4 separate regions of the Homo sapiens genome follow, and all the other regions are reported to be linked to region 4. The links are microRNA targets in miRTarBase. Many come from high-throughput screens and were not tested one by one. Region 4 holds a microRNA gene; each other region holds the end of a gene's coding sequence. Distances are from middle to middle.
What was found. The annotated mature microRNA hsa-miR-7162-3p reads UCUGAGGUGGAACAGCAGC and lies in region 4 at 2,379-2,397, shown strand. An mRNA with a match to its seed (bases 2 to 7 or 8) in the 3' UTR can be bound and repressed. Matches are read on the target gene's strand: a 7mer-m8 pairs with bases 2 to 8, a 7mer-A1 pairs with bases 2 to 7 and ends in A, and an 8mer does both.

Region 1: the mRNA of ATP5F1C is a reported target of hsa-miR-7162-3p. Seed matches in the 3' UTR shown: 7mer-A1 at 734-740.
Region 2: miRTarBase lists GREB1 as a target of hsa-miR-7162-3p. Seed matches in the 3' UTR shown: 7mer-A1 at 2,246-2,252.
Region 3: the mRNA of NRIP3 is a reported target of hsa-miR-7162-3p. Seed matches in the 3' UTR shown: 7mer-m8 at 1,661-1,667.

The regions. Positions count from the first base shown.
Region 1 is chr10:7,806,265-7,810,542 of GRCh38, forward strand. It overlaps ATP5F1C (ATP synthase F1 subunit gamma), which reads left to right. Exons shown (of 10, transcript NM_001001973.3): 9 at 710-746; 10 at 1,395-1,537. The coding sequence ends at 716. It overlaps LOC105376392 (a long non-coding RNA gene), which reads right to left. Exons shown (of 3, transcript XR_001747356.1): 2 at 2,200-2,278. Among named protein-coding and RNA genes, the nearest start is that of TAF3, 10 kb to the right of the region's middle.
Region 2 is chr2:11,640,181-11,644,458 of GRCh38, forward strand. GREB1 (growth regulating estrogen receptor binding 1) reads left to right here. Exons shown (of 33, transcript NM_014668.4): 33 at 111-2,608. The coding sequence ends at 274. Among named protein-coding and RNA genes, the nearest start is that of NTSR2, 28 kb to the right of the region's middle.
Region 3 is chr11:8,979,574-8,983,851 of GRCh38, forward strand. It overlaps NRIP3 (nuclear receptor interacting protein 3), which reads right to left. Exons shown (of 7, transcript NM_020645.3): 7 at 1,003-3,987. The coding sequence ends at 3,972. Among named protein-coding and RNA genes, the nearest start is that of TMEM9B-AS1, 17 kb to the left of the region's middle.
Region 4 is chr10:30,366,994-30,370,993 of GRCh38, reverse strand. MIR7162 (microRNA 7162) reads left to right here and starts at 2,329; the gene lies at 2,329-2,397. It also overlaps the pseudogene GOLGA2P6.

The DNA.
Region 1 (4,278 bases), 23 Mb from region 4:
CAAAAAACAAAATAAACATATTTGGCTATTTAGTAATATAATTAAGAACATGAGTAAACCATAGTATTCGAGGTCCAAGTATTAGTTGCCAGCCTAAAAACTAAATATGGCCAGGCGCAGTGGCTCATGCCTGTAATCCCAGCACTTTGGGAGGCCGAGGCGGGTGGATCACCTGAGGTCAGGAGTTCCAGACCAGCCTGGCCAACATGGCAAAACCCCGTCTCTACTAAAAAAGTACAAAAATTAGCTGGGCGTGGTGGCGGGCACCTGTAATCCCAGCTACTCGGGAGGCTGAGGCAGGAGAATGACTTGAACCCAGGAGGAGGTTGCAGTGAGCTGAGATCACGCCACTGCACTCCAGCCTGGGCAACAGAACAAGACTCCATCTCCAAAAAAAAAAAAAACCTCTAAATATATTGTGTTAATTTATAGAAAAATTGTAATTTAAATTACATATTCATAGTCTTGCCTACTTGCATGAGCATGTTTTTATTGCTTCTAACCTGGATTGAAATCTATGACTTTTTATAACAGTCATTGAGTCTGTTTCAAAGGAATCTTGTGGTAAGTATTTTTGCATGATGTACTCAAGGTATCAAGTTTAACAATTGACTTTTTTTCATTGGAAAGCATATGTGATTAACTAGCATGGATTGCTTCTTGACCTGCTTGTTTTGTGTTTGTCTTTTTCTTCTAATATAATAACCAGGGATTAATGAAAATCAAGTTCCATCCTCAGACAAGAGGTAAAGTTCACACATTCTTCCCATGTCTGTTCAGAAAAGAAACCTATTCAGATATAAGTTAAGCTAATTTAGTAATCCTAGAATTGTCCTCTGAGAGATTTAGATGGATGGGCCACTTCACAGTAGCAGCCAACTCACGGGAGCACCTGGGCAACGCTAGTGGACTTTTTTGTAGTGAGTGTGTTGATCATAGAAAATGTAGATATAAGGAAATAAACTTTGAGGATAGAGAATTAACATTATTTTGAGATATTATATATAGGTTGTGAAGAGTGGTGGTTGTCACACTTTATGGTCTCTGGACCCCTTAATGTCTGATTCATGTAGCAGAAGCCAGCTAGATTTTCATCTGTCTCTATTCATTTTGTTGTGATGTCATGGATCATGTGGCCTCTGGAAAACTCTACTGTATACTCGAGAATGAGAATATAACAGGCAAAATAACATTATCATGAAAATAGTTTTGACCTCATGAACCCCATGAAAGGTTCCCCAGACCAAAATTTTAGAATCACTGGTATAGGGTAACACTTTATTGTGTAAATTCAGTTCTCTGTACCCCACTTAAATATGTATTATTATCTCTTGACATTATTTTCCCAAAAAATGCTGTTTGATTTCTTACTTGTTCTGTACTTTGTTTTTCAGGTAAAGAAGGAAAATTCAGCCAGTTGATTTTGTTTTTAGCTTACTGCTGCCTTTGTCCGAAGAAACTGTTCCTCCATTATTTGAATTACTGAAGACAGCAAGATATTTGTAAATTATCTTAAAATAAACAACTTAAAATAAAATCATTGTTTTTCTTATATATAAGAACAATAGATATAGTTTTTGAAATGAGATGATACTAAAACATTTAAAAATATTAATATGCTACTATTAAAATTTTTTAGTAGAAGACAATTTAAGAGGCTCTTTTGATTTGGTAGTGCTCCACTGACCTTAAAATGTCTAGCCTCTATGGGGACAACGTAGAGGGAAAGGGCTGCAGCCACAGCCTCAGCCCAGTTCTGTGCCTTATTACAGCCTTAAAGAACAGTCAACAAGACCAGGCACGGTGGCTCATGCCTGCAGTCCTAACACTTTGGGAGACTGAGACTCAAGGTGGATCACTGGAGGTCAGGAATTTGAGACTAGCCTGGCCAACATGGTGAAACCCTGTTTCTACTAAAAACAAAACAAAATACAAAAATGGTGCACACTTGTAATCCCAGCTACTCAGGAGGCTGAGGCAGGAGAATCGGTTAAACCTGGGAGGCAGAGGTTGCAGTGAGCTGAGATCGCGCCACTGTACTCCAGCCTGGGCAACAGAGTAAGACTCTGTTCCAAAAAAAAAAAAAAAATGCCACAGGAAGCATTTGCTTGGAATTCTGGATACAAAATTGCAAGCATATACTTACTCTAAATTATTTAAAACATCTTTTCTAAACACTGAGAAAAGTACGATACTCACATTTAGATCACAATTAAGATTAGATGCCTGCGTTGACTCCACACTCTGAGTTGGCCATGCCAAAATTTCAGGCTTTTCCCTATTTGTTTAAAATTGATAACTTAGTTTTTTGGGTTTTTTTTAATTACAAAAGTAATATATAAATTCCAAAATACATAAAATTATAAACAATATAAAACCCATTCTTAACAAGCTCCTCTTTTAAAAACAAATGAATGCATGTATTTAGAATGGATTCTTTAAATATTTACAGCTATATTCGTGGTAATGAATAAAAAGGTTCAGTGAACTGACCAGAGCTTCAAAGTCATTTTCTAACTCCCCTCAAAGTTTTCAGGAGCCACTTCTGAAGGGGTTGGTGGCTGAGACTAGGAGAAAGAAACAGCTCACAACTGAGGAATCAGATGGAGGTGTAGTGTGAACCAGTACAAGATACCTTTTGGGAATGTTAGCAACGAACCACGTGCCTCTGGAGGCTGTGTGTATGTGTGTGTGTGTGTGTGCACGCCACTATACCTGGCTAATTTAAAAAAAAATTTTTTTTTTAGAGATGGGGTCTTGCTATTTTGCCCAGTCTGGTCTTGAACTCCTGGGCTCAAGTGATCCTCCTTAGCCCTGCAAAGTGCTGGAATTACAGGTGTGAGCCACCATGCCCATCCTGTTTTGTATTTTGCTTCTAAGCTTGGCTTGACCCACCTCCAGTTTCTAGGAGAGCAGAACACATTTGTGAGGGTGATTTGAGTGTCCTAGACATCATGGAAGGAGGAAAAGCAGGAATTTGAAATCAGTCAACATAAGTAAGAATAATCTGTGTCTGAACTGGAATACTAGCTCAGCCCTTAACAGCTGTGACCTTGGGCAAGTTACTTAATCTTTCAGTTTTATGATCTATAAGATGGAGATTAAAAGATTGTTAGGATTAAATGAGCTAATATTTTAAAATATCGAGAATCTGACAGGGAGTAAGTGCTATATTCTTGGTTAAATGTCTGCTCTATGTAAAATTAATCATCAGCTCCCTGTAGCCTTTAGTGGTGCTCTTCTGTGTACTGGCACTCTGACTCTCTGAGGATACAATAACAAAACGCCTCCTTGCAGGAGCTTACAGTCTGGAGGGAACACAAGCAAATGACAGAATGTGGTAAGTTACAATTGGTGAGCCACAAGAGGGACAGTGACTCAATTTGGGGACAGATGAAGGGGACTGAGAAGGCCGTCCAGCTTGGAGGAAGGGAGGTCTAAACAGTCCTCAAGGACCAGTGACCAACAGTAGAAATTAAACTACTAGAGCTAACTGGTGGGGAGGGAAGGCATTTCAGGCCAAGGAAGCAGAAAAAGCAAAGACCAAAATCTGTTCAAATGCACATTCTGAAAACTGCTAATACAGAGAACGAGAAAGGCAAGATAAATCTGGAAAGGTGAGTGTACCATGCTGTGTGGTTTAGACATGTAGGAAGGAATCAAAGAGTAAGCTTGAAATTTTCCCCCAACTTCTGTCCTCTCCTTTTGCTAAGTGGCATAACACAGTGGAATTACAGTGATAAATGACCACTGGTAAGGTTTATTACATAATTCAAACTGCTTTTTTTTTTGAGATGAGGTCTGGCTCTTATCGCCCAGGCTGGAGTGCAGTGGCAGGATCTTGACTTACTGCAAACTTCACCTCCTGGGCTCAAGCCATCCTCCCACCTCAGCCTCCCAAGTAACTGGGACTACACCATGCCTGGCTGATTTTTGTATTTTTAGTAGAGACAGGGTTTTGCCATGTTGCCCAGGCTGGTCTCGAACTCCTGGCCTCAGTGATCTGCCTGGCTCGGCCTCCTGAAGTGCTGGGATTACAGGAGTGAGCCACTGCTCCTGGCTATCCTATTTTCTGCAAACACCTACACAGTACCTAAAGGGCTAGGTCTGTTAATTTTAATATTCTAGGATTGAGTTTCCATCATTACAACTGTTGTCTATAATGTGCCCTTTAGGAAACTGTTTCTCTGTGTGCTTTAATATAGAATAGTTGAAGCTTTCAGAAATTTTATTATCATTATTCAAAACTCTCTAAATGAAGCTTAAGAACTGTGCAGT
Region 2 (4,278 bases), not on the chromosome of region 4:
CCCTTCCCAACAGCGCCCTGTCTTGTCATTGCAAGTAGAATCCGGGCAGCCGCTTTCCTCTGGATAAACTCACCTTTTCCCTTCCCACACCTCTGCCGTTGTCCACGCAGGTGCGACGTTGTGTGTCATCTGTCAGGACCGGAGCTCACTGCGCCAGACGGTCGTCCGCCTGGAGCTCGAGGACGAGTGGCAGTTCCGGCTGCGCGATGAGTTCCAGACCGCCAATGCCAGGGAAGACCGGCCGCTCTTTTTTCTGACGGGACGACACATCTGAGGAAGACAGCGGCGAGTTTTCTGAAGAGATGAGTGCTCAGAGCCCTCATGCTGTTGAGGCTAAAGGGAGGCCTGGAACGGTGGGGCGTTTGACTGGAATGGACCCCAGGGACTGTCCAGGTGCAGCCCCTCCTAGTACACATGGGCCCCCGAGGCCGTGGTCCTGGGAGCCAGGAAGACTCCGCAGTGGGTGAGAATGAAAACTTGAGACTCCCAAGTTCTGGGCCAGCCCATTGCTCTGGGCTGTTTTAAAGCCCATTTCACGAGGAACAAAGATTTACTTCCTGTCCTGCCATTCGTGTGCTTCCATGGACAAACCTGATTTTTTTCTCTTAGTTCTAAAGAATCTTGGGTTATTTTGTAGCGGTGCCAGTATTTCAGTAGATGGGATTTCAGCCAAGTAGGTTCCCCTGTAACCTCCTACAAAGCAATATTCCAAAGGAACATTTTAACTGTAAAGGCTGGAGACAAGAAAAAATAAGTAGATCGTTTTAATAACAATTATTTAATTGCCTATAAGTTTGCTGTTTCAGAGGCTAGCCCAAAGGCATCAAATTTAATAAAGTTAAACAAATTGATTTACTTCAGAGCAAATATGATCCTATTAAAATAATATAGGGTAAATACCCTACCTCTTAGAAAGGGCAAAAATGCAAAGAAGCTTTCTTTAAAACTAAAAGGGTTTTTTGGGGGGGGAGTTGGCGGGGAGGAAATAAGGCTAACAGAGGTTGACCTAAAATTAGCCTTACAAAGGAGAAAGGACCACATTGCTTACTTGAAACAGACAATGAAAACAACCAAAGTGATATATAAAATAGTTGATGAGAACTAGACTTATGACTGTAGTTTACTAGAGTTTAGTTTTCAGTTGCTGAAGTAGCTCATTTTCTCTTACTAATGTTTGGTTCCTCAGGGAAGAATCTCACTTGACTAGAGAGGAGGTGGGAACAGAAGAGAGAAGGAGGCAGGGAGATGTATTTCTTAGGGCTCACCCCTTCACAGACTGACAGAATGGTTTTGTTTTGTTTTGTTTTGTTTTGTTTTGTTTTTGAGATGGACTCTAGCTCTGTCACCCAGGCTGGAGTGCAGTGGTGCGATCTCGGCTCACTGCAAGCTCCGCCTCCCGGGTTCTCACCATTCTCCTGCCTCAGCCTCCCGAGTAGCTGGGACTACAGGCGCCCACCACCACGCCCGGCTAATTTTTTGTATTTTTTAGTAGAGACGGGGTTTCACCATGTTAGCCAGGATGGTCTCGATCTCCTGACCTCGTGATCCGCCCGCCTCGGCCTCCCAAAGTGCTGGGATTACAGGCGTGAGCCACCGTGCCTGCCCCAGAATGGTTTTTAAAGCCACAGTTGAGAGGCCACCCATTGCCCGGCGCCTGGACAGTGATCATCTTGTTCATCTTGTTCAGTCCTTTCTTGTGTGATTGGAATTATTCATCCCCTTTGAAAGATGAGAAGGTTGAGATGCAAAGAGTCTACCTTTCCAAGTTCTCACTGCTGGAAAGAGCTAGAAGCACAGTTCAAAGTTCTGGCTTCTGGACTCTGCAGTCCAGGTCTCCCTTCTCCCACTTGCCTACCCTCAATGCCACACTGTTTTTGAAGTGGCCCATAACTTGAAGGAAAAGTTTAAAGACAGTTCAATTTAATCATCAGAATGCATTCTTTTTTTTTTCGGAGACGGAGTTTCACTCTTGCTGCCCAGGCTGGAGTGCAATGGTGCAATGACCTCGGCTCACTGCAACCTCTGCCTCCTGGGTTCAAGTGATTCTCCAGCCTCAGCCTCCCGAGTAGCTGGGATTATGGGCGCCCACCACCATGCCCAGCTAATTTTTGTATTTTTTTTTTTTAGTAGAGATGGGGTTTCGCCAGGTTGGCCAGGCTGGTCTTGTGAACTCCTGGCCTCAGGTGATCTGCCCACCTCATCCTCCAAAAGTGCTGGGATTACAGGCATGAGCCACTGCGCCTGGCCTCAGAATGCATTCTTACACATCTATCCTAGACATTTATAAGCACTCTAATGGATAACAATCCAAGAATAAATGATTGTAAAAGATGATGCCGAAGAGTTGATGTCAATCTTTTTTTCCTAAGAAAAAAAGTCCGCGAGTATTAAATATTTAGATCAATGTTTATAAAATGATTACTTTGTATATCTCATTATTCCTATTTTGGAATAAAAACTGACCTTCTTTAATCATATACTTGTCTTTTGTAAATAGCAGCTTTTGTGTCATTCTCCCCACTTTATTAGTTAATTTAAATTGGAAAAAACCCTCAAACTAATATTCTTGTCTGTTCCAGTCTTATAAATAAAACTTATAATGCATGTATTGTTTTGTTGGTGAGTATTCATAGCACTGTTTCGAGATAAGGTAGTGTGGCTAGTCATCTCTGGGGACTAGCTGCTTAAAATGGATAGTTTTGGAAAAGAAATAAGAATAAAACCATAAAAGTGGAATATATTAACATGTTGCAGAATTCCTGAGGATAAAAAGGCAGACTGCATTGGACGTGCAGGAGAACAAATATGGAGGAAACCAGCTCAGAATGTGCAGAGAAGCCTGCCACCAAGGGAAGAAAGTTTGGGGGGACTCTGAGCTTCACGGTGGCTGCAAAGAGTGGAAGGGACCTGGGGCATTTGTCTGGATGATCACCAGGGGGAGCGGTTTGGAGCAGCCAGCCTGGTTGATTCCCTGCAGCGCTTCCCGCCGTGCTTCCCATGCTCCACTGACCTGGGCTAAGCATGCGGCCATGGCTAAGGCCAGTGGCCCCCTTGCTCACTCCCCATCAGCTCCCTGGACCCTGCCAGGCAAGTGCCCACTCAGGCCTGCTGCCTCTCATGCCAGGAGTGCTCATCCCTTGGACTCTCCCACACCCTGATGTTTTCTTGCTACTCGTAAGTCACCTTCCCAATGAGGCCATCCCATACTGGGGAACTACTAACATAGAATACATTTTTGCTATTTTTGTCTCCTTCTGTGAAGGTAGGAATTCTGTAAGAAACATTCAGTGCTGCATGCCCAGAGCTTTGAATTTGCCCAGCTCCTGGTATGTGCTCATTCATTGCCCACTCAGTGAATGAATGAATCTCTCATACCCGCAATGATCTCAACATGGGAGCAGGGGTGGGAGTGATCAGTGATGGAGAAACTAAGAAAATAGTGAAGTCGAGCTGAAATTTTTGATTTACAGGGTCAGCACTGATTAATATGCTGGTAGAAAAGGAACATTTAAATATGCATGTTAAGCATTTCGGATGACCACTGGGAGAAAAGAAAGGATGTCCAACATCTAAAACATTAAAGGGAAGACAGCAAACACCACATCAATGAAATCCAACATAAGGAAAGAACAGTTGGGGATGGGGAGAACAACAGGAAATCTTGGCAAATAAGAAACAAAATTAGATGGCAGGTGTGTGTGTCCATTTGTATGTTACTATAAAGGAATACCTGAGACTGGGTAATTTATAAGAGGTTTATTGGCTCACGGTTCTGCAGGCTGTATAGGAAGCATGGTGCTGGCATCTGCTCCTGGTGAAGGCTTCAGGAAGCTTCCAATCACCGTGGAAGGTGAAGGGGGGCAGACACATTGTGAGAGCAGGAGCAAGAGAGAGGTGGGGAGGTGCCACACACTTTTAAACAACCAGATCTCGTGTGAACTCACAGGGAGAACCCACTCATCCTGAGGACAGCACCAAGCAATCTAAGCACGATGGAATCTGCCCCCCATGACCTAAACACCTCCCACCAGGCCCCACCTCCAATATTGGGGATCACATTTCAACATGAGATTTGGAGGGGACAAACATCCAAACATATCAACAGTCAAAAGAAATATAAGTGGATTAAATTTACCTAAAAATAGATTGAGGTGCTCAGATTGGACTGAGAAAGCTAATCAGAATAGAATTTAACATTTTGATCACAAACTTATGTAGACATGCCCACATGCTATGAAATATATAAAGTGAGAACTGTTAGAAATATGAGAAGAGGGG
Region 3 (4,278 bases), not on the chromosome of region 4:
GACTCACATCTCTGGCTGGATTGCCAGGGGACCTTGGGCAGATTTCTTAGCCTTTCTGAGCATTCAGTTATAAGGGCAAATATTTTTGGAGGCACAGTGTGGACGCGTAGTATGAACTGAATGAAAGAAATCGGTTTCGTCAAAAATAAACAGAGTTGAATTAGTTGTTAAAAAAAAAAAAAAAACATCAATACTTAAAAGGTAAGTTTCCATCATCTTGAAAATACATTTATTTGAGATGCCATTTGGACAATGACTTTAACTATATATTAAGGTTCATTCAACTCTTTCCCTTCCCAAACCTCTCCTATTTGTTTGAACTAAATATTTCCTTTTTTTTTTTTTTTTTTTGTTTGTTTGTTTGAGACAGGGTCTTGCCCTGTCGCCCAGGCTGGAGTACAGTGGCTCAATCATGGCTCACTGCAGCCTAGACCTCCAGGCTTCAAGTGATCCTCCTGCCTCAGTCTCTCAAGTAGCTGGGACTACAGGTGCATGCCACCACTCCCGGCTAATTAAAAAAAAAAATTGTAGAGAAGGGGGTCTTGCTATGTGGTCCAGGCTGGTCTTGAACTCGTGGGCTCAAGTAATCCTCCAGCCTCAGCCTTCCAGAGTGCTGGGATTACAGGTGTGAGCCACCGCGTCCAGCTATATTTCCTTTTCTAGAAGTGTTCTCTCGGACTGCTGACAGGTCCACCATAAAAGATTGTTCCCGTATATGAAGTTCTGAGTGACTACCATATGCCAACCACTCTATATGGATTTTCTTATTTGACACTGTGAGGTAAGCACTTTTATTACTTCTGTTTTATAGATTACAAAACCAAGCTCAGTGAGGTTTGCTAATGTGCTCGACATACAGTCAGTAAGAGACACCTGAAGGGCCAGTAGCAATGGAGGAACAGGAGACCCTAAGAGAAAAATGCTGATGCAATTAGACTTTACCTAGTCTCCCCCACCTTCCAGACTGGAGCCCTGACACAAAGACTTTGTCAGACAAGCACACAGAGGGGAAGATTTCACTTTATTGTTACATCAGTCTCACAAATGAACCCAACACAGCCAGAAACACTGAAAGGATAAAGTGCCAATGCAGAGAGGCCTGGCAACAGGAGGAGGGAGGAATCCAGTTCGTCTCCTCCACGTCCCCAGCCTGGCAATATATTTCTATTACACAAGAGTGAGGGCAGCTGACATACCAGGCAACCCATTGTATAGACACTTTGAGCTAAGAAATAGAAAATTGTACCAGGTAGGGTCTGTGCAGGGCAAGAAAATAGAAAGAAGTCAGAAAATGTTATTTTCCCGAGTCAGGCATGGAAATATCAAATGATAAAACCAATATTTTTCAAACTCTGTTATTTGAGATAGACATCTAATAAGGAATGAGACAGGTCTGGTGCTTCATGCTACTGCCTATTTTCAGAACTATGACACCCTTTCTCCCACACCCTCAATGTAAGGTACCAGAATTTTTTAGGACTCCTGGGAAAAACTGACCTCACCTTCTTACCTTCTCAGCCCCCAAAAATTAGACCCAGTGCTCCCTCATGCACATCAAGGAGATATGAGCTAGGAGAATAATCAACTTGGAGGCATTTAAAGAAAGTGAATGAAGGCCGGGTGCGGTGGCTCACGCCTGTAATCCCAGCACTTTGGGAGGCTGAGGTGGGCGGACCACAAGGTCAGGAGATCGAGACCATCCTAGCTAACACGGTGAAACCCGTCTCTACTAAAAATACAAAAAATTAGCCAGGCGTGGTGGCAGGTGCCTGTAGTCCCAGCTACTTGGGAGGCTGAGGCAGGAGAATGGCATGAACCCGGGAGGCGGAGCTTGCAGTGAACCGAGATCGTGCCACTGCACTCCAGCCTGGGCAACAGAGTGAGACTCTGTCTAAAAAAAAAAAAAAAAAAAGAATAAACCAGCAGGAACCTTCAACATGCCTCACTGTGGCTAAGAGTCAAGGCTCAGAGTAGAACTTTCAAGTAGGGAAGTAAAGGGTGAGCTTTACTTCAACTTAGTACCAGGATAAGAGGCAGGCCAAAGTATTGCCATGAAAGGTAGGGAAGGAGCATGGAGAGGCCTCAGTGGAAAGGTACAAATCCCCGCTAGGTAAGAGAATGGGGTGTTGCTAGAGGGAGTGCTGAAGGCTGGTAACCCCGGGATCACCCCTCATGAGCTTTAGATATAGCCTCCCAACCATGGCTGTGCTTAGCTTCCTATCTAGCTTCTTTAGGTAGAGGCTGATAGGAAGGGGGCCTAGGGAATGACCCCATGACAACTGACTGCAGTATGGCTGCCTAGTTGTTCAAATGATAGTCACCAAGTTCCTAGGCTTTAGGGAGCTTCTGTGAGGCCCAAATCATTCAGAGTTCCAAAGGGCTGTTCAGTAGGGGCAGTTGCTGAACACCAGACAAGGTAGTTGGTAGTACTTGGCAAAGTTCAAAGTGGGATCCTTTAAACAAACACTCTGAGAACTACTGCTATGACACAGGGTAGACTTGGGAATATCTTAAAGGGATACCCACAGCTAGCTATTTTTCTGACTTGTCCAAGCACTTCTATGACCAAACTGAAGGGGAGATTCCATTATAGACACCTGTGTGCCTAATGTGACACCCCAGTCAAAAAGCTTCAAGAAACCTTGTATTCTCCCCAACCTTTGACAGGGGTCAGGAAATACTGGGCAGTTATAAAAAGTTGTCCTTAACATTGCCGGCTCCTGCTCTGCCTCTTTCCTTGTATCAGGACAGAACTGAACATCTCAATTCCCTGCCTGAAAATGTCATTCCCTGCCTCCCAGAAAGGTTTATCTAGATAGGCCTCTCCACCAACTGATTCTACTCAGTCTACTCCCTTCTATTCTGGCCTTGCTCTTTTTTTCCCCCCATCTTTCTCTACTCCTGGTTTCCAGCTACTTCAGTCCTTGACAGACACATAATAGGATGGGCAGAAATGCTGATCGGATCTTGGGAGTAATCAACGTCTGACAGTGACACTCTGATTTACTTAAGCCTTCAATTCCATATCAGAGAGGGATTAATATTCCTCTGTCTGTGGTTCCTCCTTTCCTCCAAGAGGTTCACAGTGAGAAACCATTTCATTCATCTTTGTACGCTCGTTTTTAGGCACCAAGATGAGGGCCTAAATGTGACAGTTTGGGGCAAGGAACTTTTACTGGGCTTGGCACACAGGAGGGAGAGCTACCCAAATCATCCTAGCATCCATCTCCAGAGAATATTCCTCCCATGCTCTGCCTTTTTTTTTTTTTTTTTAACACATTCTCACCTCTTTGCCCTCCTGTTAAAGGCTTGAATACAAATGAGGCAGCATGGGAGTCTTGGCTTGGAAATCAGGTCTGCGTTCTTGGTCCCTTCAGTCACTGACCTAATATATGAACTTAGACAATTCACTTGCCTCTCTGGACCTTTAAATGAAAGAGTTAAACTGTAATGGATAATGTCCCTGGGCTCTTTCACATAATCCATACTTGAGAAATCAATGAATCAATTTGAAGAAACTCTAATTCTAAGACATAGGTATCCTGGCACCTGTTTGAAACAGCTGAAAGGAGGTAAAGGTCAGGTTCCTGTTTATTATACATTTAGCTATAGGAAAAGAAGCACATATATCTATGGAGACACAGAACCTGGCAGCCCCTATACTTGACTAATAAAAGCAAATTCCTGGAAGAAGCAGAGAAATAGGCCACAAGTGAGACTGGCAGTGTCAAAAAAGGTCTATAAGTTAAGTGATCAAAGTAGTAAAAAACAATGGCCATAACCAGACAAGATCTCTAAGCATAGACTATAGTCTAGAGAGGTCTGAATGGGAAGGAGCCCCTGGAGCTTCTATTAGATGGAAGGACTTGGTCCACAGCAAGTCACTACGGCATTTGGTTCAAACCCAGTTTTCTCTATCTGTCAACCCGGTGTGTATGCATGCACACGTGCAGACATGCTGCAGGCTGTAGTTATGCTTCTGAAGTGCTGAAATGAGAAATAAATATCAGGAGAAATAATGCCAAATTCAAAAAAAGTTAAGCTGAAGGCAAGTAAAATTTTGCTTTCAAAGCTAGTCATTTCCCTACCACTCTGTGTGGCATCACCATTGCTCATTCTGATGTGTGCACTACAGAGTTTTGTGGGGTGATGAACTCTGGGTGTGGGGAAGGGTGGATTTGTAGTATAATTGAAAGCCAAAGACAGGATACAACCCCATGTCCTGTCTGAGAACCACCACCACCCTGCTCGCAGCTGATGACAAATGGATGTGACTTG
Region 4 (4,000 bases):
GAGTGCCCCTCTGCCAGCTGAGACAGCCCACACACACCCCAGCCCTAATGATTGTTCTCTCTACCTCTCCCCGCAATCCTCCTCCAATTCCTCCTCTCTGCATGTGCCTCAGAGCCAGTACCAAGAACTAGCAGTAGCCCTGGACTTGAGCTCCACAACAATCAATCAACTCAATGAAAACACCGAGTCATTGCTAAGAGTCCAGTGGGGTCCCCTGATTCCACACTGCCAATCCTGGGCTTCAGTTTCCCTTTGGGGCCCTGAAGAAAGGGTCTGGGGGCCTCTGGTGCTAAGGGTAAATGGGGAGCTGGGGTGCCCAGGCCTCACCCTGAGGGACCCCAGAGCATGGAGCATGCAGCATGGCTCTTCTGTTACTGCCCTCTTTGCTGCAGGGTGGAATGTCCTGCCCAGAAGGCAGCATGGCCATTTCTTGCTGCTTTTGTGTGTGGTTGTTAGAGGCAGCCTGGGGCTGAGTCAGCTGCTGTGGGTTAGTTGCGGGGCACTGTGGGGAGCGAGCACTGGATGCAGAGCTTGGAGGCCAAGTGCCCACCCTGCTGTTACCTGGCTGTGGCCTTGACAAAGTCCTAGGTGGGGGATTGCATACTTGTACTGTGAAGGTACAGAAGAGTACCTTTAGTATGTTACCATTTGTGTAGAGAGGGGGAACGTGTGTGTGTGTGTGTGTACGTACGTACTATGATAATATACATAAAACATGTCTGCAAGGATTTGTAAAAAATTCAGCAGAGAGCAACAGGGTGGCTGGGAGATACTTCCCGTCTGTACCTTCTGAGTTGTGGACTATGTGAATGTATCATCCTTTCAAAAAATGAATAAAAGATTAATTTCCCCCTTCCTATCTGTGCCCCAACCCCCAGCAAGAAAAATGGGCTTAGAGAATAGGATAGACCTGGGTATTCAAATCCCAGCTCTGTCTAAGTGACCTTAGGCAAGCACTTAACCTCTAATACTAATAATAGAAACTCTAATACTCTAATAGTAACTCTAATACTAATAATAGAGGTAATCATAGTAACTGTCTCATATGGTGGTTATGAGGATTCAGTGGGATCGTTAGCATGGTAACTGGCGAAGCACTCAATAAACATTCAAACAGTGGTAGTAATAACAGTAATAACAACAGCAATATTATCTGATCTCTCTGGGCCTCTGTTAGCCAGCTGTAAATTCGATCTTTTTCCCTGTCCCTTCCAACTTTACTGAGTTCTTTTAAAAACCAGACCACAGGCTTAGAAATGCCTTGACCTTTACTGACCAAGTTGTATATTGAGCCTAACCCTAGCCCTTTTAAGGGGCACTGTGTGGAACGGCCCAGGCTCCCCAGATCGAAACTTCTCACTCTTCACCATACAGTCCTCGAGCCGCTGTGAAGCAGTCCTCAAGCGGCAGTTATGGCAGTCCATAAAGGCTCGGGCACAGCTGGAAGCACACGTGACACAGGTGAAGCTTTGTAGAGGGAGGGATGTGGGAGGAAGATGACGCCAGGTGGCCAGGAGCAGGTGAGGACCAGTGACAGCCTTTCCTAACTTCTGTGCCCATTCTTGCAGATGTTGGAACAAGTCCAGCTAGAGACAGATGAATATACTCAACATCTAAAAGGAGAGAGGGCCCGGTGGCAGCAGAGGGTATGGAAAATGTCAGAGGAGGTGAGACCTGACCCTTAAGCCCCCCACTTTAGATAGGTCACTGGATCTTTCTGGCCATCTGTAAAATGGGAATAGTACAGCCAGAGGTGGTCATGGGTCTGGGCTTTGTAGAGGTGGAGGCAGAGAGGGAGTTGGTAGCCTGTCCAACCACCAGCCCCTCTCTCCAGGGCCCTGTCCCCCGTGCTTTGGGCAGGTTTGCACATGGAAGGAGGAGAAGAAGCATGACAGGCATCGGGTACAGGAGCTGGAGAGGAGCTTGGCCGAACTCAAAAACTAGATGGGTAAGATGGGGCTGGCATGGCCTGGGAGCAGGACTGGCATCAGAGGGCTGTGGGGATGGCTTAGAATGCCCCAGGGAGGTGGGTAGATGGAAGGGCTTTGAGGCAGAGGGAAAGAGGTCTGTGCCAGGAGACGGCAAGTCTTATAATCTCCATGAACCTCAGTGTCGCCATCAACAAAGAGGGAGGAGTGCTCATTGTCAGCCACCCACAGTGCTCTCTATCTGAAAGTGGCTTGGAAGATTGGCTACCATCCGAGAGCGAGGAATCGTTAGCAGTGAGGCCAAGTTTGGGGAGCCTGAGAGGATCTGTGCACCAAGAGAAGGGCTTTTATTTGTTGTTTTGTTTTGTTTTGTTTTGTTAACCCAGAGGCCCTTGTTGTCTGCTTCCTTTCTCAGCTGAACCCCTGCCCCTGGAGCCCCCAGCAGGGCCCTCTGAGGTGGAACAGCAGCTACAAGCTGAGGCCGAGCACCCGAGGAAGGAGCAGGAGAGTCTGGCAGGACAGCTCCAAGCTCAGGTGCAAAACAATCAAGGCTTGAGTCACCTGAACTGGGAGCAGGAGGAGAGGCTGCTGGAACGGGAGACGCTGCGGGAGCAGGAGAGGCTGCAGGAGCTGGAGGAGAAGCTGCAGGAGTAGGAGAGGCTGGGAGAGCGGGAGGAGAGTCTGCGGGAGCGGGAGGAGAGTCTGCGGGAGCGGGAGGAGAGGCTACGGGAGTGGGAGGAGAGGCTGCGGAGCAGGAGGACAGGCTGCTCGAGCTGGGGCGGAAAGCCAAGCTCTGGGAGGAGCAGGCAGAGACGTGCATGCAGGCCCTGCGGAACCACACCACCATCAACCACGTGCTCTCTCAGAACCATGAGCTCGACTAGCAGCTGGCTGGGCCACAGAGCGGCTTAGAGGAGCTGGTGCGTTGCCCCGCCTCGTGAGCCTGCCCTCCTCCCTTGCCCTCCAGGCCTTTGATTCCCCACCTGTAAGATGGGGCAGTGTAGCCCTCACGTGAAATGGTACTTCTAAAGGCACCTGTGAGCCAGAGCCCTGCTCTGATGGCTGTGGGAGAGAGGGGATAATTTTTCTAACCTGCCTCCACCCTTCCTGGTGCCATGGGAGGCAGACACCAAGTTCTGGGGTCTCCAGCTGCAGTGGGTGGCCACTGATTGCTTCTCTCTGTCCAGAACAACGAGAATAAGAGTGCACTACAGTTGGAGCAGCAAGTAAAGGAGCTGCAGGAGAAGCTGGGCAAGCTGAAGGAGACTGTAACCTCTGCCCATCCAAGAAGGGCTGGGAGGTGAGCACCAGCCTCTGGGGAGGGGAGGTGTGAGGCCAAAAGCAGCTCCAGCCCGGGGGCAGGTGACCCCAGCTCCCTCCAGGGCAGTCCTGTGACTGTTTCTTGCTTCCTGCCCTCTGACTTTTAGAGGTGGGTAGCCCTGGGCTCCTCCCAGGTGTGGACATCATCATCCCAGCTAGAGGCATGGAGCCCCCCAATCACAGGGGAGGAGTCGTGGTATAAGAGGCTCCTTATGTCAGGCATGGTGGCTCACGCCTGTAATCCCAGCACTTTGGGAGGCTGAGGCAGGAGAATCACTTGGGGTCTGGAGTTTGAGACCAGTCTGGATAACATGGCAAAACCTCATCTCTACCAATATCACACACACACACACACACACACACACACACACACACACACACACACACACACACACTAGCCGGGCATGGTGGCGCATGCCTGTAATCCCAACTACTCAGGAAGTTGAGGCATGAGAATCGCTTGAGCCTGGGAGGTGGAGGTTGCAGTGAGCTGACATTGCACCACTGCACTCTAGTCTGGGCCACAGAGTGACACTCTGTCGCAAAACGAAACAAAACAAAACAAAAACAAAAAAGTCTCCTTAGATTCAAACTAGATTCCAGCCTCAGTTCCACTGGTCGCCATTCAACCACTTTGCATCTCTAAGTCTCTGTTCCTTTAACTTCAAAAGGAAGTTAGCATTTTCCTTGCAGAGGTGCTGAGGATTAAATGAGATAATACATGGAAAGTATTAGTCATATAGCACACTTAG